Homo sapiens: one gene and its partner. The protein of the gene in region 2 purifies or fractionates together with the protein of the main gene of each other region. This does not show direct contact. Each region holds a gene or a part of one and is shown on either strand. Other genes may lie near its edges. The genes, in order: OGA and LACTB2.

Region 1 (15,531 bases), on a different chromosome or scaffold from region 2:
AAACTAATGCCACAACCATCCCACTTGGAATCACTCCACCCTGACACTTCTGAAACCCACTCTTTCTTTCTTTCATCTCTGCCATGTCCCCTAAGACTGAGAGGCATTTCACTCAATAAACCAAGGAAGATGACAGATGTTATCTTGATTACTCTCAGGTGAGAAACGCAACCACACTGGATGCAGAAAATAGTGCTGACTACATTTATTGAAGACTCTCTCCCTGTATAAGCCCATGTAAAAGGTCTCAGCACCTAACACAAGACTCAAAAAGGAAGCCCACATCTCTCTTTCATACAGGATTTGCTGCAATACTATATTCTTCCAACCAGTGAGTAGTCTCAAAGTGTGATGGGTGAGTTTTACATAGTCTTCTTTGTTTCGAATCCAATTGGCTGATTTGTTACCATTCTAGAGGCTGAACTGTATGAAGACCTCAACTACCATTCACAAGGTGCAGTTAAGAGACTTTTGGACAGTTCACAGTGTCAACAAATGTCACAGGCTCCGACCAAGTATAACCACATCCTTTGGAAATCCTTCCATTTTTGCAATTTCAAAACATCCTAACTTGCTGTAAAATTCCAGAATTCTTTTATCATCTGGTCTCACTTCACAGAAAGCTCCCCGGGAGCCTAGAAATAAAACAAATATTCAAAACATAAATAAGTCACTTAATTAGTATAATTATAGATATAAAACTATAATCTTCGAGATGGTTAATATAAACAGGGCTTGTCTGTCTACACCAGCTCCTACATTTCACACAATTAAAAAAATTCATATTCAAAAAATTCAATAATGAGTGGCGTGAGCCACTGCACCCAGCTTCCCCCGCACCCGAGACAGAATCTTGCTCTGTTGGAGTCCAGTGGCAAGATCACGGCTCACTGCAACCTCCGCCTCCCGGCTTCAAGCAAGTCTCCTGCCTCAGCCTCCCGAGTAGCTGGGATTACAGGCGCCTGCCACCACTCTTAGTAGAGACAGGGTTTCACCATGTTGGCCAGGCTGGTCTCGATCTCTTGACCTCATGATCCGCCCACTTCGGCCTCCCAAAGTGCTGCGTGAGCCACCGTGCCCGGCCTTTTTTTTTTTTTTTTTTAAATTAGGTAGAGATGGGGTCTCAGCCATATTGCTCAGGCTGGTCTCAAACTCCTGGACTCAAGTGATCCTCCCACTTCGGCCTCCCGAAGTGCTAGGATTACAAGCATGAGCCACTAAGCCCAACCAGCATTTCTCAATTATTAATACACATGCGATTCTTCACCACTAATTAATTCAGAAACCAAATCATAAAAGGTGGGAAAAGCAGTATAAATTTACAATTCACTTCTTTCCTTTTATATCCAAAAATATATAGTTCTTTCCCTATCTTGCCCAAATACCACCAACTCCACAAATATGTACTCACCATTAGCCTTCAGTGAAGACAGGAGGCAAGCCATCATGCTTTTGGCCACACTTGGGTCAGTTACTTTTTTGTGAATGTCCATCTTTATCAGAGAAGGGAAATTAGCAAGGAAAGTTTCTGGCAGTACTTCCTGTTCTTCATGGAAACTCAACATTATTTTCTGGAAAAATTAGAATCTCTTGACTTTCACAATAGTTACGCATTAGATATCTAACCCAACTACAGAACTTAGCAACAAGAAAGCAATATTTAATAACTCTTCCAGTCACTATGTAAATTATCTCACACAGGATTATCCTATAATTCTAGCTGAAGCATTTTCACTTTCTTTGAGACAGGATCTCCTTCTGTTGGCCAGGCTGGAGAGGGGCAGGCATTCTCCCTCGCGTGCACGCGCTCTCTCTCTCTCTCTCTCTCTTTCCCTATTTATATCGTCAGGGCTGGTCTCGAATTCCTGGGCTCGAGTGATCCTTCTATCTCGGCCTCCTGAAGTGCTAGAATTACAAGTGTGTGCTGCCGTGCCTGGCCACCGTTTTCACTTTTAAAAGCTTGGGCCAGAGATCAAGACCATCCTGGCTGACACAGTGAAACCCTGTCTCTACTAAAAAAAAATACAAAAAATTAGGTCGTGTTGGCGGGCACCTGTAGTCCCAGCTACTCGGGAGGCTGAGGCAAGAGAATGGCGTGAACCCAGGAGGCGGAGCTTGCAGTGAGCTGAGATGGCGCCACTGCACTCCAGCCTGGGCAACAGAGCGAGACTCTGTCTTAAAAAAAAAAAAAAAAAAAAGTTTGGGTTGGGTCTAGTAGCTCACGCCTGTAATCCTAGCACTTTAGGAGGCTGAGGCAGGCAGACTGCCTGAGCTCAGGAGTTTGTGACCAGCCTGGGCAACAAAGTAAAACCCTGTCTCTACTAAAAACATAAAAAATTAGCCAGTCATGGCGGCGTGCGCCTGTAGTCCCAGCAACTCGGGAAGCTGAGGCAGGAGAATTGCTTGAACCCGGGAGGCAGAGGTTGCAGTAGGCTGAGATCCTGCCACCGCACTCCAGCCTGGGCGGGGAAAAAAAAAAAAAAAAAAAAAAGTTTTCTGGCCAGGCGTGGTGGCTCACTCACACTTGTAATCCCAGAACTTTGGGAGGCCGAGACAGGTGAATCACAAGGTCAGGAGTTTGAGACCAGCCTGGCCAACATCGTGAAACCCCGTATCTAGTAAAAATACAAAAATTGGCTGGGCCTAGTGGTGGGCGCCTGTAATCCCGACTACTCGGGAGGCTGAGGCAGGAGAATCACTTGAACCTGGGAGGCGGAGGTTGCAGTGAGCCGAGATCGCACCATTGCACTCCACCCCAGGCGACAGAGGGAAACTCCGTCTCAAAAAAAAAAAAAAAAATTTTGTCTAAATGCTATGTGGTATTGGATCCTGGAACAGGAAAAGGACATTAGCAGAAAAAACTGGTGAATAAAGTTTGGTGTCTGATTAATAATATACCCATGTTGGTTACTTAGACTTCACCAATACAGAAAATGGATAAGGAGTATACAGAAACTCTGTTTTAACTCTGCAACTTTTCTGTAAATCTAAAATCATTTAAAATACATAAAATATTTTAAATTAACGTATTCCTTACATGAAAATGTGCAAATTTTATGTTATTTATATTTTACCACAATTTTTAAAAAGTTCTTATGCTGAAAAGTGTCAGATGTGGAACAGCAATACATCAGCAGCTCAATCACCAGCATAGTGTCAGTGTAATCCCAAGTAAGCGAGGCAACACCAAACCAGCCTCTTGTTACACAGCCATGTGACTAAGGGCAGAAGGTAAAATATAGAAATAAACTATGAAGAAAATGAGGCCAGGCGCGGTGGCTCACGCCTATAATCCTAGCACTTTGGGAGGCTGAGGAGGGCGGATCACCTGAGGTCGGGAGTTTGAGACCAGCCTGACCAACATGGAGAAACCCCGTCTCTATTAAAAATATAAAATTATCCGGGCGTGGTGGCACATGCCTGTCATCTCAACTACTCGAGAGGCTGAAGCAGGAGAACTGCTTGAGCCTGAGAGGTGGAGGTTGCGGTGAGCCAAGATTGCGTCACTGCACTCCAGCCTGGGCAACAAGAGCAAGACTCTGTCTCAAAAAAATAAATAAATAAATAAAAAGACTATGAATACTTTGGTGTGGTGGAGAGGGGTAGAGAATTTTAGAAAAGGAAAAGAGAAACAACATAGAAGAAAAGAAAAAAGTATCACAAGTAGGGGTCCAAATATCTTATTTACTGTGCATAAAAACTATCCTCAAGAAGGAACTATCTAAAAAATGCATATACTGGCCAGGCACAGTGGCTCGTGCTTGTAATCCTAGCAGTATGGGAGGCCGAGGCAGGCGGACTGCTTGAGCTCAGGACTTTGAGACCAGCCTGGGCAACACGGCGAAACCCCATCTCTACAAAAAAAATACAAAAAAGTTAGCTGATGCGTAGTGGCTTGCACCTGTAGTCCCAGCTACTTGCAGGGCTGATGCAAGAGGATAACTTGAGCCTGGGAGGTCAAGGCTGCAGTGAGCCATGTTTGTGCTATTGCATTCCTGGGTGACAAGGTGAGACACTGTCTCAAAACAACAACAACATATACTGATGTATAAACCAAAATAATCACGTAATGTGTTGGCCAACATGGGGCATAAAACTTTTTTGGAGATGAAAAATGTATTTAAGTTGGGACAGGACAGACTTATTAAGAAGTGCTCCTATCACAAAGTAGACTCTCAAGAGCTCTTATTTTTAAATCACAATGTAGAATGCATTAGTCAGAAGGCAAGTTATTAACCTTCTGAGAAACCACCAAATAGATTTAAATTACTTAAATTGTCCTGAGTACTCAACAAAACGACCATAATATCTTGTTTTTTTTTTTTTTTTTTTTTTTTTGAGACAGAGTTTCACTCTGCTGCCCCGGCTGGAGTGCAGTGGCGCCATCTCAGCTCACTGCAACCTCCCGCTCCTGGGTTCAAGCAATTCTCCTGCCTCAGCCTCCTGAGTAGCTGGCATTACAGGCACCCGCCACCACACCCAGCTAATTTTTTTTTGTATTTTTAGTAGAGATGGAGTTTCACCACGTTGGCCGGGCTGGTCTTGAACTCCTGACTTCAGGTGATACACCCGCCTTGGCCTCCCAAAGTGCTGGGATTACAGGCACGAGCCACTGTGCCTGACCAAGACCATAACATCTTTAAGTATGAAACTTTAAAACAGAGGAAAAAAATGTTCTTTGTCTTTATTGTGTTTTCACCTGAGGAAATATTACAATAGTACTCCCAAATAAAAAACTGTCCCAATATTGGGGAAACAGTGAAAAATGTCATGCTAAGAATAAGCCATAAGAATTCTTTCTGCAAGAAAATTAATTTAGAAAGCACTAAGATTTTATGATGTATCTATGTACTTTTCCATTTTAGTAAGTACTTTAATAAAAAATAAAAATAAATAAATAAAAAAGACCATTACCATAGTATAATTCTTAACCTTTGTATTACCTCAGCCTCAGAGAGTTCCTTGTCACCATTTGGCTTGGTATACTTCTCCTGCATGAAGGGGATCCAGGAAATTTTACATTTTTTAATAAAGGGGGTCACATCTACAGTGCCCAAGGCATAACCACATATGCCATCTTCATCTTCTAGGACAAAGCAGTAATCCAGGCTGAGGGAAAGCAGCCCTCCTACTAACCTGCTCAGAAGGAAAGAGGCCACAGTAAACTTTTCAGTTGCTAATATAAAATTCAGACTTCAGTGATCCAAGACCCACTGTACTTGCATGAACTTACGGAACCTACATTTGGTGTAAGAAACTAGAAATGCACACATATTCAGATTTTACTAAAGCCAAAGTGGGATTTAAAATAAATAAATATATTTCCAGTCATCACCTCCCCTCAACCTGATAAGCCTCACTATGAAAGGTCTACTCTCAAATCCAAATACTTATCACATACTTGTCTCCAATAAGATCAGGCTGACTTTGAAAGGGTAAACCCACTCCATCGTCATACATTTCTCTGCAAATCTTGTACACGGATGCCTGAAAATATAATCTAGTTAAGCAACACATCAAGAAAAATGGCAGCAGAATCTAACAATATAACTCACAAGTCAGTCTGGGGAGGGAGTAACAAAATGGCCTGTCAGAAACATCTATCAGAAATATCACCTCTTCTTTGTAAAATAAAGATTTATTCATTGAGTCAGATTTGTAAAACCAGCAAAAAACAGCAAGGTTTTAGGAATACTGAGAATTGGCTTTTGCAGAGGATGGTTTTTTTGTTTTTTGAGACAAAGTCTTGCTGTCACCAGGCTGGAGTGCAGTGGTGCAATCTCGGCTCACTGCAGCCTCCACCTCCTGGGTTCAAGTGATTCTCCTGCCTCAGCCTCCCAATTCGCTGGGATTACAGGCATACGCCACCATACTCATCTAATTTTTTTTTTTTTTTGAGACGGAGTCTCTGTCACCTAGACTGGAGTGCAATGGCACGATCTTGGCTCACTGCAACCTCCGCCTCTCAGGCTCAAGTAATTCTCCGGCCTCAGCCTCCAGAGTAGCTGGGATTACAGGCACCCGCCACCACGCCCAGCTAATTTAGTATTATTTTTTATTATTTATTATTTTTTTTTTTTTTTGAGACGGAGTCTCGCTCTGTCGCCCCAGGCTGGAGTGCAGTGGCATGATCTCGGCTTACTGCAAGCTCTGCCTCCCGGGTTCAAGCCATTGTCCGGCCTCAGCCTCCCGAGTAGCTGGGACTATAGGCACCCACCACCGCACCCAGCTAATTTTTTTTGTATTTTTAGTAGAGACAAGGTTTCACCATGGTCTCGATCTCCTGACCTCGTGATCCGCCTGTCTCGGCCTCCCAAAGTGCTGGGATTACAGGCATGAGCCACCAAGCCCGGCCTATTTGTATTTTTAATAGAGAAAGGGTTTCACCATGTTGCCTAGGCTGGTCTTGAACTCCTGACCTCAGGTGATTTGCCCACCTCGGCCTCCCAAAGTACTGGGATTACAGACGTGAGCCACCGCGCCTGGCCCTGTTACTGTCTTTAAACAGTCTTGCTTTTTTCTTTAGCTGATTGTCAACAGCCTGTAGATACTTCACAATTGAAAGAAAATTACAGAACACCAATATATTAGAGATAATTAGTCTAAGGACAACACATCATTTAGACACATTAACTATTTTGTAACTCCAACTCTGAATACATTTCATCTGACTTTCTCAAGGGAGAAATTAAAGAACTTGGCACAAGATGTTAAAAGTCTAAACTCCTTAAATTTCTCAAGATACACTGAATGTTTTAATGAACTTTCTCCATCTAAAGTTTGCAGTTTTAAGACAGAAGGATTCCTTTAACCAGTGAGTTAAAAGGTTAAGTTTTAAGTGTGCACCATACCCATACACCAAGTTGGTAGGTAGAGAGACAATTACCTCATCCTTAGGAAAATAAGGTCTGATAGTATAAACTTTGGAGGTAGGAGTCAGTGGAGGTGGCTGAAAAAAGAGATCATTTGCCCCATCAATTGGCAGCAAACGCTGTGGGAAGAAAAAAAAGGAGATGGATTAGTTTGGGGAAGGTATCCATTTTTTTAAATGGGTGTGCACTGCAGATTACCAACTTATATTAACTGGCTACTGCAGGCAGACCTAAAGAAGAGGGGTGTACTATGCTTTACTAATAGAAATACCTCTTTGCTGGGGGAGGGGAGTGCTTCTGAATAGAAATTACCCACTCTGAGTTACAGCTTTAGTGGCATATTAATGGGGATTTAAATTTACAGTAAAAACAAAAACAAAAACAAAAACAAACCTATTCCAATTATGACAAATCTATTTTTTTTTAAAACCTATCTTAGATAGACCATCTCCCTACGATAAGATGGCAGAACAGAATGTCAGGAGGAGAGGTTTGGTCTGAAGAGGGTTATCTGTCCAGGAGACGCTTTATCCCCAAAGCAATGCGCTTCAGTTTGCTGTGCGCAGCAGAGCACCTGTTGGGGGGAGAAAAGTAGAGCACCTAGAAAGTCCATGAACAAATTCCAGCAGCAAAAAAACTTCCTATTTTGTTCATATTTTCAGCAATGGACAATTCTTTCAAGCACATTATATTTATAAAATAATTGGATAAATATCCAAAAGCTCTTTCACCATTTATTGGCATAATTACTATCTTTTGTTCATGGAGCTTCCACTGGCAGACAAGCATGCGCGCATTGTGCATTGCGGGCGCAGATTAAAATGCTGTGCGACCTGCAAAGAAACAATGTGAAGTGTATACCTAGAGCCGCTGCGCTTCGCAGGCGCGGGGGGGATTGGCAGCATCTCCTTCAGAAATTACTGTGAAAGAGGAGGAAAATTTGATTTAAAAATCCAGCTATGTAACTAAATTGAATTTGGGACTAGAAAGCCTTCGGCAGACCAATCCTTCCAGCCATCTGATGCGCAACATAAGGTTTCTCATAAAACAAAGAAAATGTCAATTCAGTTGTGAATTCATATTGATACCTGGAACTCTCCTGCTAGACCACCTCTAAAGGCCCAGGGTTCTTGGTCTCCAATTAAGAATTGTGCTGAAGAATGACTACGACACCCTGTTGAGATCAGATCCAAGCGGAGAACGTTACGAGAAAGGGGATTTCCTGGGGTCTCAAATGTCCAACAAACTGACAAACACTTCGTGGAAATAACTCTCTAACAATAATCAGGGTTTCAGGGCAAGGCTATGATAATAATTATTATTTTTTAAAATGTTAACGGCATTTCAATACTAATGTTCCTTCCTCCAATTAATGAATAATCAGTATTATCAGTTCTACTCTTTAATTACTGGAAGGAAAGTAAGTCCCAAGTTTGTCTGAGTCAACTTTATATATTCCCTAGATATTATACAAATCAAGCTAGCTGCTTGCTCTGTCATAAAATTATAGTAACTATTAACTAAAATGACTGATAATTAGACACTTTATTATCACAGCCCATGAAGGAATTCAACCTGTCTGAAGTCACATTTTACATTTTGAGGAAGGGTACAGGTAAGGGAAAAGGGCGGGGGAGAAGGATTAATCTTGTCAGAAAACTAAGGTCAGTAGAATAAAATACAAGAAATTAAGTTGACAAAATGAAACATAATGAGAAAAATTTTTTTGGACAAAAACAATTCAAAATCAGACTTGGCTAATAATACCAGTCTGACAGATTCTGAGAACTAAGGAGAGCCAATTGATGTTATTTTGCCCAGAGCTAAATATACTTTTCTTAAAAGTATGACAGTATCTGGTTCCTCTGACCAGCCATTATAATAATCTTTGCAATACACTGAACATACACATGGAATACAGAAGTCTCTATTTAAGGTCACCAGTTAACTAACTTAATAGGCAATAACGCTAGCTAACAGTAAGACATAAAGGCAAATGTTTGGAGGCCAAATCAAAATCACTTGCCTAGTCTTCTGACAAGATAAAGCAGCGCAATATAGTTCTTTTCCATTGGAAGACAGCATTCTACCTCCTGTTCAAGTTAACAGTCTCATCAGTACAAATATAGTGTGCTAGTCAGACAGTCCCAAAGCAAACCAATTTTTTGTTAACAATTCAGGCCCATTAAGAGTTTGTATCTGGTTTGTCATTTTTCAAGGGTAGGGGTACTTTTAAAAAACATAAAATGTAGTATTTGTAAAATAAATATGAAACAGGGTCAAAATTTAGACTATACGAGAACCTGTCCCATTCCGTAACTCAGTGTAATTTACACTGCAGGAAAAAAACTATACCTCTCAAACTTTAAGATCAGCCAATTTCCCCTACCCCCTACTTTGAGACTACAACATAACTAGCACTTCCAACTATTACAATAAAAAGCTGCATGTACGAAGAGCTGTGTAAATGAAAACATGGTTAATGCCTCAGTCGCTGCGCAAACGTGACTTCAGTTCATGTCTACCGCCCTTAAATCTACCTGAGCTACCTCACAGATAGAACCTTGCAATTTAAACTAATTAATCATGACGCGCTGTGAACATCTGCCGCTGTCCATCCAATAGTAGTAGACACTTGTGCTGAGGATTCTCCCATCTGTACACAATGGGGAAGAAGATAATAGAAGTCATTAGTAATCAAAAGTACTGCATAGCCACATTGTTTAAAGGACTGAATGCCAGCTGGACTGGAGAGAGGAGGAAAAGGAAGGGTTCCAATCAGTAAACCCCCTGAAATTACTACAGAACCAAGAAAATACTCTCCCTGTCGTGAGCTTTTGTAAAGCTATGTGGATATGAAGATAATTATTTAAAACTTCTAAGATGTTACAAGGGGTGTCCAATCTTTTGGCTTCCCTGGGCCACACTGGAAGAACTGTCTTGGGCCACACATAAAATACACTAATGATAGTTGATGAGCTTAAAAAAAATAAAAAATAAAAAAACTCACAATGTTTTAAGAAAGTTTACAAACTTGTGTTGAGCCACAGGCTGGACAAGCTTGCTGTAAGAGCTTGAGATTGTGTAAGAGGTATCTATATAATTTTGGAAAGCTACCACCATAAATGCTCAGTGCAGAGATAAACCCTGAGAAGAGAAAGAAACAATACTGTGTATCATTAAGAATTTAACTTTTAATAATTCTTAAATTAAAAACTGAATATCAAATGTTTTCTGTAATACATTTCAAGCTCAATAATCCAGATTTCAGGTTCAAAATTCCTAAGGGCCTTAGAAACTTAAGTTTAAATCCCTATAAGAATGAATTATAAGAACCTGAGCAGAAACCTGGAAGGCAAATGTTGTCATCCAGCAACCAATATTGAGGTCTCTTGAGCCTAAGGGTAGATGTCTCCCATGTACAGGAGCTATACAGAGCCTCCCCCCAGCCCCACAAGATGAAGTCTCGCTCTGTCACCCAGGCTGGAGTGCAGTGACACAATCTCGGCTCACTGCAACCTCCACCTCCTGGGTTCAAGTGATTCTTCTGCCTCAGCCTCCCAAGCAGCTGGGACTACAAGCACATGCCACCACGCCCAGCTAATTTTTGTATTTTTAGTAGAAATGGGGTTTCACCATATTGGCCAGGCTGGTCTCAAACTCCTGACCTTGTGGTCTGCCCGCCTAGGCCTCCCTAAGTGCTGGGACTACAGGTTTGAGCCGCTGCGCACGGTCAGTATTTCCTTTATTTATTTATTTATTTTGAGATGGAGTCTCCCTCTATCGCCCAGGCTGGAGTGCAATGGTGTGATCTCAGCTCACTGCAACCTCTGCCTCCTGAGTTCAAGCAATTCTCCTGCCTCAGCCTCTCAAGTAGCTGGGATTACAGGCATGCGCCACCACGCCTGGCTAATTTTTGTATTTTTTTAGTAGAGATAGGGTTTCACCATGCTGGTCTCATGCTGGTTTTCACCAGGCTGGTCTCGAACTCCTGATCTCAAGTGATCCACCCACCTCAGCCACCAAGAGCGCTGGGATTACAGGGGTGAGCAACCGCGCCCGAAGCTATACAGAGCCTTTTAACATGAGGTCAAAATACTCTCTTCTACCTGTTATTACAGCAATCCAAAAAAAGTTATCTATTTTCAAATTAACAATCTGAGACTCTACTTTTAGTAGCTAATTAGTTGTATCACAGGGAAACTTTTTTTTTTTTTTTTTAAATATTTAAGAGCTCAAAGGTATACAGGCAGAAAGTGGAAAATCTCACTACTACTTTTTATTCTAAGCTCACGGTGTTTCAGATATCTATTTCACAACCAAGACCATGAAACCCATCATAGTATTTGTGACTACTATGAAAACTATGACATGTCAGTCAGCCTTGCTGCCTGCTGTGTGCTGTATATAAGTCCATTACATATTCCTTATAGCTGGATTGAAAACCTGAAAATGAAATGAAGTCCCTAGAGAAACTTGGCCATGCTGGTGCTTTTTACCAAGTTTGACAATTTAAAAAAAAAAAATCAGTGTTCAAAGGAGACATACAAAAGTCCATTTAATGTAGCAGAGATGTTTAGGGGATTACAATTTCTATCCCCTGGTAAAACCAATACTTGGTAGAAGGATAAAGAAAAAGCCACGTGAAATAATACTGAATAGCACCAGAATAGCCTTACACTAAAGCTCGCATGCGCACAGGGCTGGGAGGATGGCTTCCTCTTGCCAGGCCCTTTAGGTCATTTCAGCAATTGTTCTGTTAAACATAGCATTAATGTTATCAAGACACAGCAAGCAGCAGAAAGCTTGTGGAGTCACATTTCATAGTGTCTCATCTCCAAATCAGATAAAAGTGGTATACAGGGTTCCATCCAGAAAGCATTCAGTCAGAGCAAGTTAAAGTCAGTACTTTCTAACATACTTTTAAGATACTTATGCTGAATTAGCCCAAGGGAGAAAAATTAATGTGCTTGATGTATTTACTAAGACTTGCATCTCAAGTCTTCAATAATGCCTATTTTTGAAAGAAACCTAGGCAACGAATTGAAGAGACTTGGAAATGTGCCAATTCCCTAAATGTTTTTCTCCCTGTGGGATAATTTTTTTTAAAGGGACAATATATTTGAGGAGAAGAGATTATTCCTGGTGCACCTACCTAACCACTGTACAAAAGACTTCACCATAGACATTATACTCTTGATATCCCAAACATAGGAGTACATGTCATAAAGAATTGTCCTGTTGGCACAATTGGAGAGCCGAGTGAACATTCCCATCACTAGTCCACACATCTCTTCAAACTTGGCTGCTCGTGACCGCCATTCTTCAATCTATTGAAGATCAATAAAAAGACTCAAAAAACTGTAAGCTTAACAAAATAATCTGAGACACAGTTACACATTAAGCTGCTTATGTTGTCAGGTACTGGCAATTTATCTTAACCATTAAAGTATCATTTTGTGTCTCCCCAAACTGACAAATATTCCTAAAATAATGACCTTTCCTCATTCTTAACTAGAAGGGCAAACTATGAAACTGAAGGTACCAGATTTAGTAGAGTCCACATCCACTGTAAAGAACATACTTTTTTTTTTTTTTTTTTTTTGAGACAGTTTCCCTCTCGTCACCCAGGCTGGAGTACAATGGCACGATCTCAGCTCACTGCAAACTCCGCCTCCCGGGTTCTTCAAGCGATTCTCCTGCCTCAGCCTCCTGAGTAGCTGGGATTACAGGTGCCCGTCACCATGCCCGGCTAATTTTTGTATTTTTAGTACAGATGGGGTTTCACCATGTTGGCCAGGCTGATCTCAAACTCCTGACCTCAGGTGATCTGCCCGCCTCTGCCTCCCAAAGTTCTGGGACTACAGGCATGAGCCATCATAACCGGCCTAAAGAACATATTCTAAAACATGGTCAATTTTCTGTCAGTTACAGTGTACTCATTTAAGAACCTTTTCCACATTACCAGTATGGGGAACCACCCAGGCTTCAGCAGCAGGTACATTAAACATACTCACTTTTTCAGAGTCTTTTCCTTTGCAATTGACACTGACAACACTACTATTTGCTCGAAGCCATTGAAATTCCCGTAACATCTGTGCTCCTTTGGGTCCATGCTCGTAAGGAAGGTAGAATAGATCAGCAAGTAACTGCAAATCCTCCAGGGTCACTGGTTCCGCAGTGTACAAAGGCTTTTCATTTGGACCTGGCACAAACTGCTCCTTGTTTGTCTGTTCATCAGTTTGCATGGGGGCAATGTCACTAATACAATCTTCTTGCATGGACATCTCTGGGGATTTTGATTCAGCTATGCTCTCTTTATCAGTGTCCATTGGTTTCAATTCCTCTGCCATTTTCGCTTCAACAATTTCACTCAGTATTTGATTGTCATTCTTGTGGTCCGTTTCTTCTTGTTTTTCCACCACCATGTCCATGGGTTCTTCATCAGGCTGTTTCTTTTCTTCTTCCTTGGTCAGAGTAGTAGGCTCACCACTCAAGGCTGCTCCCTGGCTCATAATGGGCTCCTGATAAACTGTTGTTACTACGGTTGTGGCATTTAAAGAGGGTGCTGCAACTAAAGGAGTCCCATCAACTACACTTGCTTTAGCTCCACTGTGTGCAACTTGCCTACCTACAAAAATAAATAAATGTATAAATAAAATGGTCACACAGATAATCAGAATTAGAGATAGAACACATTAGATTCAGAAAGATGCTTTATCATATTTGTTAAGTGGAACCTCAATTTTAGATCCAAATTAATTTGACCTCTAAGAAAAATGAGATTTCTCTATACTACTAGGGATGCAGGAATGGAAGGGCGTTGGGAGGTAAACATGCCAACATCTACTATTACATTCTCTTTTGAAAATTTGTGTCTAAAAACCCTTAAATTACTTCAAAAAATATGTTTTTAAGAGAAATTAGCATTCCATCAAAATAAAAGCTAATATTTAAGACCAAAAGTAAGATTTAAAAATCCTTATTCTCTAGATCCCCCAATTTCATTTAATTTCACTTTGCTTAGTGGGCATAAGGTAAGGCACATGACAGTGTTCTTTTTTTTGAGACAGAGTCTCGCTCTGTCACCCAGGCTGGAGTACAGTGGCTCAATCTTGGCTCACTGCAACCTCTGCCTCCCAGGTTGAGGCGACTGTCCTGCCTCAGCCTCCCAAGTAGGTGGGACGACAGGCGCATGCCACCACGCCCGGCTAATCTTTGTATTTTTAGTAGGGACAAGGTTTCACTATGTTGGCCAGGCTGGTCTCGAACTCCTGACCTCAGGTGATCCGCCTGCCTCGGCCTCCCAAAGTGCTGAGATTACAGGTGTGAGCCACCACACCCGGGAGACAGTGTTCTTTACTTTGTGACTCAACTATGTGATCTAACCCCCTTAACAAAGAATGGCCAAACTCACTGCTGTATTGATGAGGCACACCAAACTCTTGCAACCATTCTGTTAATGCTAGCTTTAGAGCCATCTGTGGACTATAGAGTACATCAGTTTCAATATCTTCATCACTGCCTTCATTTTCTAATTTTATCTGGATGGACACAGTACTATCTTCACTGTCAGCTGCAAAAAATAAAATAAAAAAGCACAAAAATAGTTTTGATTACAAAAGCCTTCTGACAAGTGAGAAGAATAAATGCAACTAGTTTTCACAGTATAACCACAGAAACAAAGAACAGAATGAGAACAAACCTTAAACATAAAAATTCAAATAAAAGCAAGACCCTTCACCAAACCACTTCATATAGGATAGTAACCTAAACGTAATGTTAAATGTAAAATCTCAATTGAAATAAGAAATATAAATTTTAGTATCAGTGGAAGAGTCAATCTTAACCGTCTACTGAGTACTAATTGTTGGGAAGTCAAGGTCAAAAGTACCATGCTTTTCGTATGAAGAAAACATTGCATAGCCTTCAGGGCCTTGTAACTTCTTTTTTTTTTTTTTTTTTTTTGAGATGGAGTCTCACCCCATCACCCAGGCTGGAGTGCAGTGGCAGGATCTTGGCTCACTACAACCTCCGCCTCACAGGTTCAAGCAATTCTCCCACCTGAGCCTCCCCAGTAGCTGGGACTACAGGCGCATGCCACCATGCCCAGCTAATTTTTCTATTATTCGTGAAGATGGGGTTTCACCATGTTGGCCAGACTGGTCTCGAACTCGACCTTGTGATCTGCCCACCTGGGCCTCCCAAAGTGCTGAGATTACAAGCGTGAGCCACTACAACCGACTGTAACTTCATTAATAAAGGCGCTGAGGGAAAAAGAAGAGGCCAGGCATGGTGGCTCATGCCTGTAATCTCAGCACTTTGGGAGGCTGAGGCGGGCAAATCACCTGAGGTCTGCAGTTTGAGACTAGCCTGGCCAACATGGTAAAACCCCATCTCTACTAAAAATACAAAAAATTAGCCAGACGTGGTGGCAGGCACCTGTAATCCCAGCTACTCGGGAGGCTGAGGCAGGAGAACTGCTTGAACCCAGGTGTCAAAGGTTGCAGTGAGCTGAGATCGGGCCATTGCACTCCAGCCTGAGCAACAAGAGCAAGACTCCGTCTCAGAAAAAAAAAAAAAAAAGAGATAATCGACAGAGACCCACAAATTAGCACACATAAGGCAACAAAGCTCTGAGCCAGGATAGTGGTAGAGA
Region 2 (15,531 bases):
ATTTAACTCTGAGTATATAAATCTTCCCTTAGGGTGTTTAAATGCATCATGGATTCTCTCAATTTAATCTTCTGAAAGAACCTACCCTTTAAGCCTTCCAGCTAATAACTTGCTCCTGTCGGCTTGTTTTCCTCCGGGCCTGATGCTGGTGTCATCTCAGAATTCCCTGCACTCTCACCTGGGGCTTCCCTTTGCCTCTCTCCAGTGTTGGATCTCCTTTCTCCAGTGCCCCATAAGTTTCTTAAAACCCCCTCTGTTTTAGGGGAACCCATCTCCAGTAGCTTTCTGAGAAATGGTGAATTTTTGAGACCTTAGATATCTGAAAGTATCCTTTTTTCATCTAACTTTATTTAAGGTATTTATGAGTATAGATTCTAAGTTGAAAGTATTTTTCCTTCTCAGTATTGTCTGCAAGGTTTCATTTCCTTCTGGTTTCAATATTGCAATAGAGAAATCTAAAGCCCTTCTGATTGCTGAACTTCTTTGGTCCCTGGCTTTTGCTTTTTCCCTTCTTTTCCACTGTATCCTGAAATTTCACAGTGATTCCTTCATCAAAGGAATCACTGCCTCATCAAAGGATCCTACCTCAGCATGCAAAGGTGCCATATTTTGGCAGTAGTGTGTTCTGAGTCCCATCATCGGAAAAAACTCAGAGGAGTTGACTATAGTTTTAGTCAAAGCGAGTCTTTGTCAATCCATGATAGGCTTTTTCAGTCTTGAAACATGTCCTTCAGTTCCAAAAATTTTTCTTGAGGTGCTTATTTTCTCTCATCTCTTTTGTGCTGTTTCATTTACTAAAATTCCTATTATTTTGTTAGAACTCCTGTACTACTCTAACTTTATTTTTTTCTCTCTCATTTTTCATCTTTTTGCCTTTTTACTATACTTTCTGGGAGATTTTTATTAACTTTATCGCCTAATCTTACTACATGTTTTTATTTCTGTTCTCAGATTTGTAATTTTCAGAAACTTTTTGTTCCCAAAATGTTGCTTTTATACTAACCTAATCTTGTTTCATAGTTGCAATTTCTTCTTTTTTTGCTGAGGATATTATATTCTGTGGGGTTTGGTTGTTTTGGAAATTTTCTTCATAACCCCCTTTGTTTGCTTGTTCGTTTTTATGCGCTGTCTTCAACATAACTTTCCTTAGATGCCTAGTAATCCTGTTTATCTTCTGATGTTTACTAATTGTGTTCTGATGGAAACTACAGAGCTGTTTGGGAGCTCTGAGAATGTGGGGGGGAGTCTTCCGTAGGCTTTAGGCCTCACTGTAGGATAATCTGGATGAGCTCTTCAGTTGGGAACTTTCCAACATTGGTATCGTAGAGTCTTTCTTCCTGAGATGGTAAAATAACTTAGAAAAAGACTCTTCTAATCTTCATGTAGCGTAAAGGCCTGGCTGCCAGAATTATAGAAGCTGAGTGTGGAAAGAAGGCATAGGAATCTACATATATTCTTGTAATCTTACTTTTTTTTAGTATATTGTCACTTCCTGCATCTATGCCTCTGTTTTACCCTCTTCAAAGATTAAACCTCCAGCGTTTCCCTTAGTGAGATTGGGGCACTTCTCAACTCAAAGTGGGAAGAGACTCTTGAGGATCTGAATGTTTGCTAAAAAGACTTTCAACAGACTTCTTATTTCAGCCACCTTCCTTCCACTTCACCCTCCACTTCCAGATTTCCTAAATCCTTAGACTTTGAGGAATTCTGCAGTGCAAATCTGATTGGTTCTCAGCTTTCCCTGCTGCTTATTTAGGCTTCCATTTTCTCCTGTCTGGTAAGTCACTTATCACTCATCTATATGTCATCACATTTACCTTATTCCCACAAAATATTCCATTATTGGGAAGATTTATTAAGTATATCCCAAACATGGCTGGGTACAGCGGCTCCTGCCTGTAATCCCAGCACTTTGTGAGGCCAGGGCAGGCAGATCACTTGAGGTCAGGAGTTTGAGACCACCCTGGCCAACATGGTGAAACCCCATCTCTACTAAAAATACAAAAATTAGCCAGGTGTGGTGGCGGGCACCTGTAGTCCCAGCTACTCAGGAGGCTGAGGCAGGAGAATTGCTTGAACCTGGGAGGCAGAGGTTGCAGTGAGCCAAGATTGCACCACTGCACTCCAGCCTGGGCGACAGAGCGAGACCCTGTCTCAAAAAAAAAAAAAATTATATATATAGATAGATAGAGATATATATATTCCAAGCACATAAAAACTCAATACTGACTAGAATAGCAGGTAATTATCCTCTTAAACTAAATAAAATATAATTTAAACCATATTCCTTCAGACATGTATTGCTATTTGCTGTGATTTATTTATGTAAAATGTAAAATGGAGAGGCTAATAATGCCCAACCCAAAGTAGTGTAAGGATTAAATGTAATTTGTGTAAATCCCTGAAGACACTGCCTGGTACATGGAAAGCAATCTATTACTAAAATTAACTACTACTAAGTGCCAAGTACTGAGCGTATAAAAATGAAAATGAGATGAGAGTCCTGCCCTTCTGGAACTCATAACCTTGTGAGGTAGAATAGCAAACAAAACAATGTGAAGCCTACAGAATAACACATAATTCAAAGTAGAAGAAGAATATAGAGGCAACAGTGACCAGTACAGAGAATTAAGTCTGTATATTGCTGAGAAGTCGGGGTGCTTTGCAGAACAGATTATTTGAACTCAGCTTTTTGTTTATCTGGTTTATTGTTGGCATAGTTACAAAACAATATAAATGTAAATAAGAATTTTTGAAATAAAATACCTGTCATACTTTAAAAGTATTATAATCAGTTTTGTCAACAAAAACTGAAAATTGGAGGAAAGGAAAAAGGAAATAAATGCATGTTAAGTTTCTTATATAGGGTAGAATTTATAAAAAACGGCTCTGTCTTAAAATGTTTAACTAGAGAGAAAAAAATAGATTAAAGAGTCTTTTTCTGATTTGCGTTTCTCTGATGGCCAGTGATGATGAGCATTTTTTCTTGTGTCTTTTGGCTGCATAAATGTCTTCTTTTGAGAGTGTCTGTTCATATCCTTTGCCCACTTTTGATGGGGTTGTTTTTTTCTTGTAAATTTGTTGGAGTTCATTGTAGATTCTGGATATTAGCCCTTTGTCAGATGAGTAGATTGCAAAAATTTTCTCCCATTCTGTAGGTTGCCTGTTCACTCTGATGGTAGTTTCTTTTGCTGTGCAGAAGCTCTTAACCACAATGAGATACCATCTCACACCAGTTAGAATGGCGATCATTAAAAAGTCAGGAAACAACAGGTGCTGGAGAGGATGTGGAGAAATAGGAACACTTTTACACTGTTGCTGGGACTGTAAACTAGTTCAACCATTGTGGAAGTCAGTGTGGCGATTCCTCAGGGATCTAGAACTAGAAATACCATTTGACCCAGCAGTCCCATTACTGGGTATATACTCAAAGGATTATAAATCATGCTGCTATAAAGACACATGCACATGTATGTTTATCACGGCACTATTCACAATAGCAAAGACGTGGAACCAACCCAAACGTCCAACAATGATAGACTGGATTAAGAAAATGTGGCACATATACACCATGGAATACTATGCAGCCATAAAAAATGATGAGTTCATGTCCTTTGTAGGGACATGGATGAAGCTGGAAACCATCATTCTCAGCAAACTATCGCAAGGACAAAACACCAAACACCACATGTTCTCACTCATAGGTGGGAATTGAACAGTGAGAACACATGGACACAGGAAGGGGAACATCACACACCGGGGCCTATTGTGGGGTGGGGGGAGGGGGAGGGATAGCATTTGGAGATATACCTAATGTTAAATGACGAGTTACTGGGTGCAGCACACCAACATGGCGCATGTATACATACGTAACTAACCTGCACGTTGTGCACATGTACCCTAAAACTTAAAGTATAATTTAAAAAAAAAAAAGAGTCTTTTTCTGACCACCTTCTGCATGTTAAGAAAGTTTCTTTTAAGCTTTTAGATAATAACTACTAAAATAAATTTACCATTTATTAAGCATGCAATTTTGTGCCATCTGCTATGCTAAGCACTTAAATACTTGTCTTTGAAAAGTATATACTGATGCCAGCCTAGGCAACATAAAGAGACCTTGTCTTTACAAAAAAATAAAAATAAATTAGCCAAGCGTGGTGGCACATACCTGTGCTCCCAACTAGTCGGGAGGCTGAAGTTGGAGAATTGCTTGAGCCCAGGAGGTTGAGGCTGCAGTGAGCCAGGAACATGCCACCACGCTTCAGCCTGGGTGAGAACAGCTTGGAAAACATAACAAGACCTTGATATATCTCAAAAATAAATAAACATATATGTATATATGTGTATATGTGTGTGTGTGTGTATATATATATATAAAATGATGTAAACATATAATGATGTAGGAAAATACAATATAGTAAGTTAAGATTTCAAAAATCAGGTATTAAAACAATATCAGTTTTGTTTTTAAAATATATAAATATGCATAGAAAATCAAAAAGTATATATTCTGTAATAATAAAAGCTCTCCCTCTGAGGAATAGAAATGATTGTTGATGTTCATTTCTTTTAAACACTTTACTTTTCTATTTTCCAAATTTGTTATAATCAGTGCTTATTATTTATAAAGTAAGAAAAATGGTAGGAGGCCAGATGAGGTGGCTAATGCCTGTAATCCCAGCACTTTGGGAGGCCGAGGTGGTAGGATTGCTTGAGTCTAAGAGTTCAAGACCAGCCTGGTCAATATTGTGAGATCCTGTCTCTACAAAAAATAAAAATAAAAATAAATTAGCCAGGCTTGGTGGCCCACACCTGTGGTTCCAGCTACTCAGGAGGCTGAGGTGGGAGGGTCACTTGGGCCCAGAAGATTGAGCCTGCAGTGACCTGTGATCCTGCCTCTGCACTGCAGCCTGGGCAACAGAGTGAGACCCTGTCTCAAAAAAAGAAAAGAAAAAGGGTGGGAAAAGTATTAAATTTTACTTCAGAGTGAGAATCTTGGTTTAGTTAAAGGAGAGAATTTTCTAATGATAATTTTCAGTGGGTTCAAGAAAAGAAAAAGCAGCTTTTTAACTCATCTGTTTATTTGTGTCTAAAGATAAGGATACAGAATAATTTACTTCTCAAAATTTCTTCTAAGCTCGAGTTCATAATTGTTATTATTCCTTATTTCTTCTTTCAACCAGAGTTCTATATACCCCTGGCCACACTGATGATCACATGGCTCTACTCTTAGAAGAGGAAAATGCTATCTTTTCTGGAGATTGCATCCTAGGGGAAGGAACAACGGTATTTGAAGACCTCTATGATTATATGAACTCTTTAAAAGAGTTATTGAAAATCAAAGCTGATATTATATATCCAGGTGGGTAATTTTTAAATTTTTTTATATTTTTATGTTTTTAAATAGAGACAAGGTCTTGCTATGTTTTCCAGGCTGTTCTCAAACTCCTGACCTCAAGCAGTCCTCCCACCTCAACCTCCCAAAGCGCTGGGTATACAGGCATGCCAAAGTGGGTAGTTTTTCAAACCTAGCAAACCATTTGTGTCAAATGATGAGGAAGGTTCATTTTGGCTTGTCTCTGTATGTATTTGGCCTTGAAGAGATAACATATAAGGCCAGGCTCAGTGGCTCACACCTGTAATCCCAGCACTTTGGGATGCCAAGGTGGGCAGATCATGAGGTCAGGAGTTCAAGACCAGCCTGGCCAACATGGTGAAACCCCATCTCTACTAAAAATAAAAAAATTAGCTGAGTGTGGTGGCGCACACTTGTAATCCCAGCTACTTGGGAGGCTGAGACAGGAGAATCGCTTGAACCTGGGAGGTGGAAGTTGCAGTCAGCAGAGATTGCACCACTGCATGCCAGCCTGGGTGACAGAAGCAAGACTCTGTCTGGGGGAAAAAAAAAACATATCAACTACTTCTTTAAAATATACCCCTCTTTGAGAGGCCTAGGTGGGCAGATCACCTGAGGTCAGGAGTTCGAGATCAGCCTGGCCAACATGGTGAAACCCTGTCTCTACTAATAATACAAAAATTACCCAGGCGTGGTGGCAGGTACCTATAATCCCAGCTACGCGGGAGGCTGAGGCAGGAGAGTTGCTTGAACCTGAGAGGTGGAGGTTGTAGTGAGCCAAGATCCGCCATTGTACTCCAGCCTGGGCAACAGAGCGAAACTCTGTCTCAAAAAAAAAAAAAAAAAAAAAAAAAAAAAAAAAGGAAAATACACCCCTAAGTCCTGTCTAGCTGTGCAGTTAAACTTAAAGAGAAGGCCAAGAGCCATATTAATAACTTTTGATAAAGATATGAGGGTTATTTTTCAACATACAGTTATTAATAGAACTGTTAAAAAGACATAAACTTACATTGAAATGGGAAAATGTTTTCATTCCATAAACCACTGTTATTTTTGTTAACTTGATTTTTATTTGGACCACATTTTAGCTGTGTAACTTTGGGTAATGTTTGACCTCTGAGCTTTAGTTTTTTTAATTTACAATATTGAAATACCAATAGCTTCTATATCAACTATAAAATGGTATCTTTATTTCCATTCTCCAGAAAAAGAAACATGTTAGTGTCTCAGATCTCACTAGACTGTTCTACAATATCAATCTCTCCTTCATCTGAAGAGCTAAGAAATGGCCAGGCGCAGTGGCTCACGCCTGTAATCCCAGCTCTTTGGGAGGCCAAGGCAGGCAGATCACCTGAGGTCAGGACTTCAAGACCAGCCTGGCCAATATGGCAAAACCCCATCCCTACTAAAAATACAAAAATTAGCCAAGCGTCTTGGTGGGCACCTGTAATCCCAGCTTCTCAAGAGGCTGAGGCAGGAAAATCACTTGAACCTGGGAGGCAGAGGTTGTAGTGAGCAGAGATCACGCAACAGAGTGAGACTCCTTCTCAAAAAAAAAAAAAAAAAGCTAAGAAAGACACAGGACCCAATAAAAAGGCCCAAAAGGAAAAAGGGACTAGGTCACTTAACTTCCTAAGTTCTTCTAACTTGCGATTAACCAAGCCATTGAAAGATCCGTCCATCCAGTATCTTCAACACATTTACACTCTGCGATGAGTTCCTACTGCTGGGGGAATAGAAAACATACGGTAGAGCTGGGCATTTAGATTTATATGATGACATTAAAGGATTGCGGGCTGATAGCTTTGGGGGGGTTTGTTTGTTTGTTTTGCTTTGTTTTTGCTAAAGACAGCTATTTTTAAAGCGAAGAGGGCAGACGTTGAGTGAATTCACATTCAAGCTAAGCTAATGAGAGGCTACCTAGTAAAGATTCTAGAGTGCTTTAGTGAATCCAGTGAACTGGCTTACTAGCACAGCAGTTGTTTATATGTAAATTATGCTCTGTAGCCATAGCTACCATATATTAAAGTCTTCTAGCCATCAGGTTTTGTGCAGGGGCCTTTACAGTTGTCATCCTCACCAAAACCCATGTAAAGTAGGTAGTGGTTTCCTCACCACACAGCAGAAGAAACAGCTTAGAGAGATTCAGATACTTCCTCATTTATTAGCCACACAGCAAATAAATGATAGGTCTGTGTCTAACCAGATCCCGTAATAGGTTAGCCTGCTTCTGGATATTTTGTTCTCAAATATTTAAGAACATCATTCTTGCAGACTTATATAATATATAATATTAATGTGTACTGTCTTAAAGGGGAAGTAAATTATAGTATAACTTAATCTGGGTTGTCAAAATTTCTGACATACAGAAGCCTATACATAGGATTCTTAAAGTTTTACTGTGGGTCTTGTGAATTTTTAATAGAGCTTGGTCATGTACATGAAACTGCTTTTTACATTGTCCTTTTGCAGTATTTTATAAGCTTAGCCTAATGGTCAAGAGCACAGAGTGGTTAAGAGATCCTGTCAGAATCCTAACTCCACCCCTTCTTAGCTATGTAACTGTGGACGGATTATTTACCCTCCGTATGTCTCAGTTTCTACCATAAGAAATGTGTAATAATTGTACCTACTTCATGGGATTCTTGTAAGAATAATGTATGTTAAGCATTTAGGGCAGTGCCTAGCACATAGTGAGCACTCCATAAACATTACCTATTGTTATTATTGTAGTTGCTATTTTTATTGCTGTGTTTTATTGTTAAATTTCTATTCCATATTTTTAATGTACACAATATTTTCTATAGATTGTATTTGCTATAATTTTCTAATTGGGGGGTATTGTATATAATTTTTAAATCTCTTTCACCTGTATAGCTTTCCAAATAGTTCATATTTGACATTTAGTATGCTTTTTCAATATATCATATGAATTATTTTTAAATAGAGTGAGTTAGCTTCTGTTGTACTTAGTATTTTTTTATCTGACTGAAGTAACTCTTATAATTATTTTAATTCAGGACATGGCCCAGTAATTCATAATGCTGAAGCTAAAATTCAACAATACATTTCTCACAGAAATATTCGAGAGCAGCAAATTCTTACATTATTTCGTGAGAACTTTGAGAAATCATTTACAGTAATGGAGCTTGTAAAAATTATTTACAAGGTAATTTTCAGTTTTCTTATTTGTATGTAGCCACAAATTTATTAGAATTATCTATTTAGTAGACTATAGAAATGATAAACTTATATCCCAGATCAGAAGTTACGCCACTTTTCTAGATTTGAGACCAGCAGCCTAAACTTTCTACAGTGCTAAAATTAAACAAAAACTGGCCTTAGAGAACAAAGATAGCCATTTCGAGCCATCATTGAACTTTATATACTTAACTATGTAGGAGAAACTGCCTAACTATGTAGGAGAAACTACCAACAGCCTGATGATTACATTTTGTAATAATTTTTGCATTATTCTAGCCATCTTGATTATCTTGTGTCCCAGCCTGCACCAAGAGAGGAGGGGTGACCTGCTAGACACAAATATTGGAATGTTAACAGTGAGAAGTAGTAGCAAAGCAGTGAGAAGTAGTAGCAATGCCAAACAATGGAGAAAAAGAAAAAAAAAATCAAAGAACATGAGTAAAATAGTATGTAGGGAAAGAGCCTTACACCTCACTGGCCTCTGAGAATATCACTGTATTGACAGCACTATATAGCAGTCAGTATAATTCAGTTTTTCAGCAAATGTTTATTAGATGTCTGCTGTGTAGGCAGCATAGCTTAGAGGTTAAAAATGTAAGCTTTTGTGGCCAGGCGTGGTGGCTCACCCCTGTAATCCCAGTATTTTGGGAGGCTAAGTGGGAGGTTTGCTTCAGCCCAGGAGTCCGAGACAAGCTTGGGCAACATAGTGAGACCTCATCTCTACAAGAAATTTTTTAAATGAGCCAGGTGTCATGGAACATGCCTGTGATCCCAGCTGCTCGGGTGGTTGAGATGGGAGGATCACATGAGCCTGGGAAGTCAAGGCTGCAGTGAGCCTACATCGCACCGTTGCACACCAGCCTAGGTGACAGTGCAAGACTGTATCTCAAAAACTTTTTTTTTTGAGATGGAGTTTTGCTCTTGTTGCCCAGGCTGGAGTGCAGTGGCGCCATCTTGGCTCACCACAACCTCTGCCTCCTGGGTTCACGCGATTCTCCTGCCTCAGCCTCCCGAGTAGCTGGGATTACAGGCATGTGCCACCATACCCAGCTAATTTTGTATTTTTAGTAGAGATGGTGTTTCTCAATGTTGGTCAGACTGGTCTCGAACTCCCGACCTCAGGTGATCCACCCGCCTCAGCCTCCCAAAGTGCTGGGATTACAGGCATGAGTCACTGCGCCCGGCCCAAAAACTTTTTTAAAAAAATTAAATTTAAATTAAAATATACAAAGATATTACCCTGTAACCTAATAAATAAATTACAGGGCCAACTGTCTGTAGCATCATGAAAACTTTCTAAGAATAATTTTACATTTATTCATTCATAAAATATTAATGTGTTTCTGCTATGTATTATTATGCTAAACACTGAATATTCAGTAATGAACAAAACAGATACTGCTGCCAGGCCGGGCATGGTGGCTCACGCCTGTAATCCCAGCACTTTGGGAGGCCGAGGCGGGCGGATCACCCGAGGTCAGGAGTTCGAGACCAGTCTGGCCAACATGGTGAAACCCCATCTCTACTAAAAATACAAAAATTAGCGAGGCATGGTGGCACACGCCTGTAATCCTAGCTACTCGGGAGGCTGAGGCACGAGAATAGTTTGAACCTGGGAGGTGGAGGTTGCAGTGAGCCGAGATCGCGCCATTGCACTCCAGCCTAGGTGACAAGAGTGAAACTCTGTCTCAAAAAAAAAGATACTGCTACTGTCTTTATGGAGCTTACAACCTATTCTATCTATAGGAGTATATATAGAATATAAAACAAGATGTATACAAAGTGAAATTGTTAAAAATGTCAAACAAGTTAAAAATGTGTTTAAGATAGGCCAGGCGCAGTGGCTCACGTCTGTAATCCCAGCACTTTGGGAGGCCGAGGCAGGTGGATCACAAGGTCAAGAGATCGAGACCATTCTGACCAACATGGTGAAACCCCGTCTCTACTAAAAGTACAAAAATTAGCTGGGCGTGGTGGTGCTCGCCTGTAGTCCCAGCTACTCGGGAGGCTGAGGCAGGAGAATTGCTTGAACCTGGGAGGCGGAGGTTGCAGTGAGCCGAGATGCACCACTGCATTCCAGCCTGGCGACAGAGTGAGACTCTGTCTCAAAAAAAAAAAAAAATGTGTTTAAGATAAACTTTTGCTACATTTTGCTTTTCTTCAAAGCTTTCAAAAAATTAACTGTGTTCTTTTTTTTAAAAAAAAAGGAATTTTTTTCACCTTCATTTTTCTTTTAGAATACTCCTGAGAATTTACATGAAATGGCTAAACATAATCTCTTACTTCATTTGAAAAAACTAGAAAAAGAAGGAAAAATATGTGAGTATGCTTCCAAATTTTCTTCTATTACCAGCATTTAAAATATTTTTACAGATGCCTTAGTTTCCTTTGAGGAAAAATAATACCCATCAGAGTTCTCCCATGAATATCACTTTAAGTTGGAGAGACAGGCGCTAGGAAGGTCAGTAGCACAGGGCCAGTGGACCACAAGCTGGAACCAAAAGCTCCCAGGGGAATTAGAATCTCAGTTGGAATTCCAATCCTTACCCACCAGAATGGCAATCAAAGACATGTAGCAGGAAGATAACTTTTCTTCTCCCAGACCCAAAAACCACGAAGAATTTCACATGTGGTAGATTTGGGAACAGCCAAAGGTTTTAAACAGTGGTAAAGGTAGTAAACTTAGAGATGTCAAAGCAGTAATTATGTAATTATTTTCTAGTGTTAGTTTGTCAAACTAATAATCTTTATAGAAATGTAATCCTTAAAATCCAGAATTCTAAGCTTGAATTTGATGTAGAAGCCTTAGCAATGTTTTTACATGTACCAAAAATACCCAACTTTATATTGAGCAACAAAATTATTTTAAGAATGAATGCTTTTTCTAGCCACAAGGTAACTTAAAATTCAGTGCATTTACTTATCTATTGTTAAATTTTTACTCTCTGATTTTCTTTTTACAGTTAGCAACACAGATCCTGACAAGAAATGGAAAGCTCATCTTTAGTTTCAGATTAAAGAAAGCTTTGTTTTATTTTGCTTTCAGAGAATGGTATGTTTTCTTAACTATAGGTTATTTTATAGAGAATATAAAAGTATAAAACATTAAAAATAACCCTAGATATACTTTAAAATAATGTTATATTTATGCTAAAATATGTAAATTACACTATACAACCATATGATAGGTTATTTCTCTAACCTTGTCTTCTAACGTTTTACCAAAAATTCATAATCTAATAGTTTATCAGTTTTCAATAGATTAAATAAAATGATTACTTTAAAAATAATAAAATTTATCTAATTTAAAGTTGATATTATTTTTGGCCGTTAGTTATCTATTACTAGTGATCAGTTATACTGTTTTCTATAGCTACTTTATTTAACAGCACAGATTTCTATGCACCTTTACTCTTTCCTCAACCCTTGTCTCTATCTGTACATAATTGCTTTGTCTTGATGTTTCTATCAACTATATCATGACTATCTATTGGTTCCATAACTCTGTATCATGTGTATTTTCTTATTCTGGTATACCACAAATGATTCATGCAAATGAATTTTTGGTGATTGAAAAATATTAAATTCCCAATTTAAAGTATTATATGATAAATAATTATTTCTGTAATCCATTAATGCAACCAACATACTTTCCAAGTTTAAATCTTAGTATGTAAATAGTCATCAGCTTATACATGAATTAGGTACCAAAAGTTTACATTTAAATTAAAGGATTATAAGATAGGGCATTTTTTATATTTTTATATAAGTAGTGTTCTTATATAGTGGTTAGGTTCACAAGGTAGTCCACCAATGCTTACTTAACTTATACAGTTCTCAAACTACAATACTAAAATAAGCCCAGAATCCTGAGTGTATTTTGTTTACTCTTCCCTAAAGATTGAGACTTAAAAATTTTTTTTTGTTTTATTTGTTTGCTTTTGAGACAGTGTCTCTCTCTCTCTGTCACCCAGGCTGGAGTGCAATTGCACAATCTCCGCTCACTGCAGTCTCTACCTCCCAGGTTCAAGCAATCCTCCCACCTCAGCCTCCTGAATAGCTGGGACTACAGGCACATAGCACCACACCTGGCTGATGTTTTTATTTTTTATACAGACAGAATCTCACTATGTTGCCTAGGCTGGTCTTGAACTCCTGGGCTCAAGCAGTCCCCCTGCCTCAGCCTCCCAGCATGCTGGGATGATAGGCATGAGCTACCACACCCAGCCAGACTTAAAATTTTTTTAATTTCCTTTGGCAGCTTCACCTCTTTCTGCCTCTTTTCCCAAGGTCCCTAGCATTTTCATGCCATCCTAATACACTTATTCTCATGCTTTGAAGACCTAGACCCGTATTCCTAGAACTGGTTCTTATTACAAAATAACTTATAAACTCAAAAACAAAAGCAACCTGATTGAAAAATAGACAAAGAACTTGAGTAGACATTTCTCCAAAAAAGATATACAAGTGGCCTATAAGCACATGAAAAGATATTCATCATCACTCATCATTAGATAAATGTTAAAACCCTGAGATACCACTTCAGGCCCATTACGATAGCTGTTACTAAAAATTAAAAATTAAAAAAAAAAAACAGAAAATAACAAGTGTTGGCAAGAATGTGGAGGAATTAGAACCCTTGTGCATTGCTGACAGGAACATAAAATAGTGTAGCCACTATGGAAAACAGTATGATACTTCCTCAAAAAAACCTTTAGAATTACCATATGATCAGCAATTTATCTTCTGACTATATACCCAAAAAATTAAAAGCAGGGACTTAAACAGACATTCGTACATCCATGTTCACAGCAACTTTATTCACAATAGCCAAAAGATGGAAGCAACCTAAATGTCCATTGAAGGATGACTGGATAAATAAAATGTGGTATACACATACAGCAGAATATTAGTTCTTCTTAAAAAGGAGGGAAATTCTGACGTGGGCTACAACATAGATGAACCTTGAAGACATTATGCTAAGTGATATTAGCCTGTCACAAAAGGATAAATACTATACAATAGTACTTATAGGAGGTGCGTAGAGTAGTCAAATTCATACAGACAGAAAGAAGAATGGTGGATACCAGGGAATAGGAGGAAGGGGAAATGGGAAAATAGTGTTTCATGTAAGAAGTTTTGCAGTTTGGGTAGATGAAAAGAGTTCTGGGGATAGGTGGTAATGGTGATTGCAAAACACTGTCAATGTACTTGATGTCACTTAATGATACTGTGTTAGGGTTCTCCAGAGGGGCAGAACCAATAATAATATTACTGTATATATAAAAGGGAGGTTATTAGGGAGAATTGGCTTACACAGTTACAAGACAAAATCCCACAATAGGCTATCTGCAAGCTGGGGAAATGAGAAGCCGGTAGCCTGGCTCGGTCCAAGTCCAAAAGCCTCAAAACCAGGGAAGCCAACAGTGCAGCCAAGGCTGAGGCCAAAGGATTTATTCTTTTTTTTTTTTTTTGTAACAGAATCTCACTGTGTTGCCCAGGCTAGAGTGCGGTGGTGCGATTTCAGCTCACAGCAACCTCTGCCTCCTGGATTCAAGCAATTCTCCTGCCTCAGCCTCCCGAATTGCTGGGATTATAGCCCCAGCTAATTTTTGTATTTTTAGTAGAAACTGAACTGGTTCTTATTAGAACTATATTTTTAGTTTCACCATGTTGGCCAGGCTGGTCTCAAACTCTAGGATTCATTCTTGATATGCCTCTCTTCCTCCTCTTATAACCAAATCTTCACCAAGTATGTAATGCCTATTCCACCTCCAGAATGTATCACTACCTCTTACCCCACCAATACTCCTTAGTCCAGGCCATGGTCCTCTCTTGCCTGAACTAGTGCAATCAATTCTGGGCTTCCTACTTCTATTCTTGGAGGAAATTGGGGAACAGGGGTGAGAAGGGCATTCTGAGCTGAGGAAATCTTACGTAAAAGCCATGGAATTATTGTCTTTTTATAGTACTGTGGCCCACTTCAGATACTGCAGGCTGCAATTAGATATATTGGAAGAGGGGTGATAATGGAAGGCTAGTACATTTATTGTTTATGGAAAGAGTCTAGCAACTGAGAGCTTTAACCAAAACAATGGCATTCATTAAATGTCTGCTTTGTCCTGGGTACTGGGCCAGGCCCTGGGGATACAAAGGTAAACAAAAGAAGCTCATATTTTAGTTATGAAGACATACAATTACCATGTGCTAGAGTAAAGGAAGAGGAGCTAACCTGGCTGAGTTATAGAAAGCTGCTTAGAGGACCCTGAGCTCAGTCTTAAAAGATGAGTACATGGTAGGCAGACGAAGTTAGGGGTATTTGTATGGGAGACGAGAGGAATTGTTCTAACTGGAGGAAATCGTGTATGCATATAAACAGATATGGCAGAGCATCATTTGGTTGGGGAACTAATTTATACAACTAGAATTTATGGTATTGTGTGTTGAGGCCATAGGGATAACAAGAATCTCATGGGAACACAGAATTCACACAGAAAGCAACGTATTGTCATCCAGCCATGCTTCATACAGATTGGAGTATATATACTTTAGGAATTGGAAAGCAGTTCAGGTTCTGGGGCAATTCTAGTGTTATTTAGTTGTATCCTCACAGCAAGAGTTGGCCCTCTTCTATTATGGTGATTTCATTCCTCTATTCATTTCCATTACTTCAGACAATCACTTTACCTTCCGTTCAGAACACCCGGAAGTTTTGGCTGACTCATTTTCTGTTTATTCAAGAGTTTCCGAAGCCTGCTTGTCGTCACCTCTGCCTTCTCTCTGCATATCTTCAGCCTCTGTTTGGCAACTGAGTAGCCCTCTTTGTATCTCGGGTACTGATCTCCTCATAGAAAACAATCTGATTGGTGTGTTTGTTCTCTGTTTGAGAGAATTTTCTTGCCACACTTTCTTATATGTTACTGACCAGCCTTTATGCTGACTGCTCTGGACCAATCATCTGGGACGAGAAG

The links.
Region 1: the proteins of LACTB2 (region 2) and OGA purify together in Homo sapiens (affinity purification with mass spectrometry; 3 studies listed by BioGRID and IntAct, with this or other methods). This does not show direct contact.

What each region holds. Positions count from the first base shown.
Region 1 is NC_000010.11:101,785,953-101,801,483, forward strand, and holds part of OGA (protein O-GlcNAcase), read right to left. Parts: intron 14,449-15,531; coding exon 14,290-14,448; intron 13,504-14,289; coding exon 12,890-13,503; intron 12,203-12,889; coding exon 12,028-12,202; intron 10,020-12,027; coding exon of another isoform or gene 9,889-10,019; exon of another isoform or gene 9,529-9,888; coding exon of another isoform or gene 9,449-9,528; exon of another isoform or gene 8,047-9,448; coding exon 7,961-8,046; intron 6,992-7,960; coding exon 6,887-6,991; intron 5,488-6,886; coding exon 5,402-5,487; intron 5,137-5,401; coding exon 4,944-5,136; intron 1,572-4,943; coding exon 1,412-1,571; intron 636-1,411; coding exon 499-635; 3' UTR 1-498.
Region 2 is NC_000008.11:70,633,896-70,649,426, reverse strand, and holds the end of LACTB2 (endoribonuclease LACTB2), read left to right. Parts: intron 1-5,183; coding exon 5,184-5,362; intron 5,363-8,376; coding exon 8,377-8,525; intron 8,526-10,797; coding exon 10,798-10,879; intron 10,880-11,523; coding exon 11,524-11,567; 3' UTR 11,568-12,161; downstream 12,162-15,531.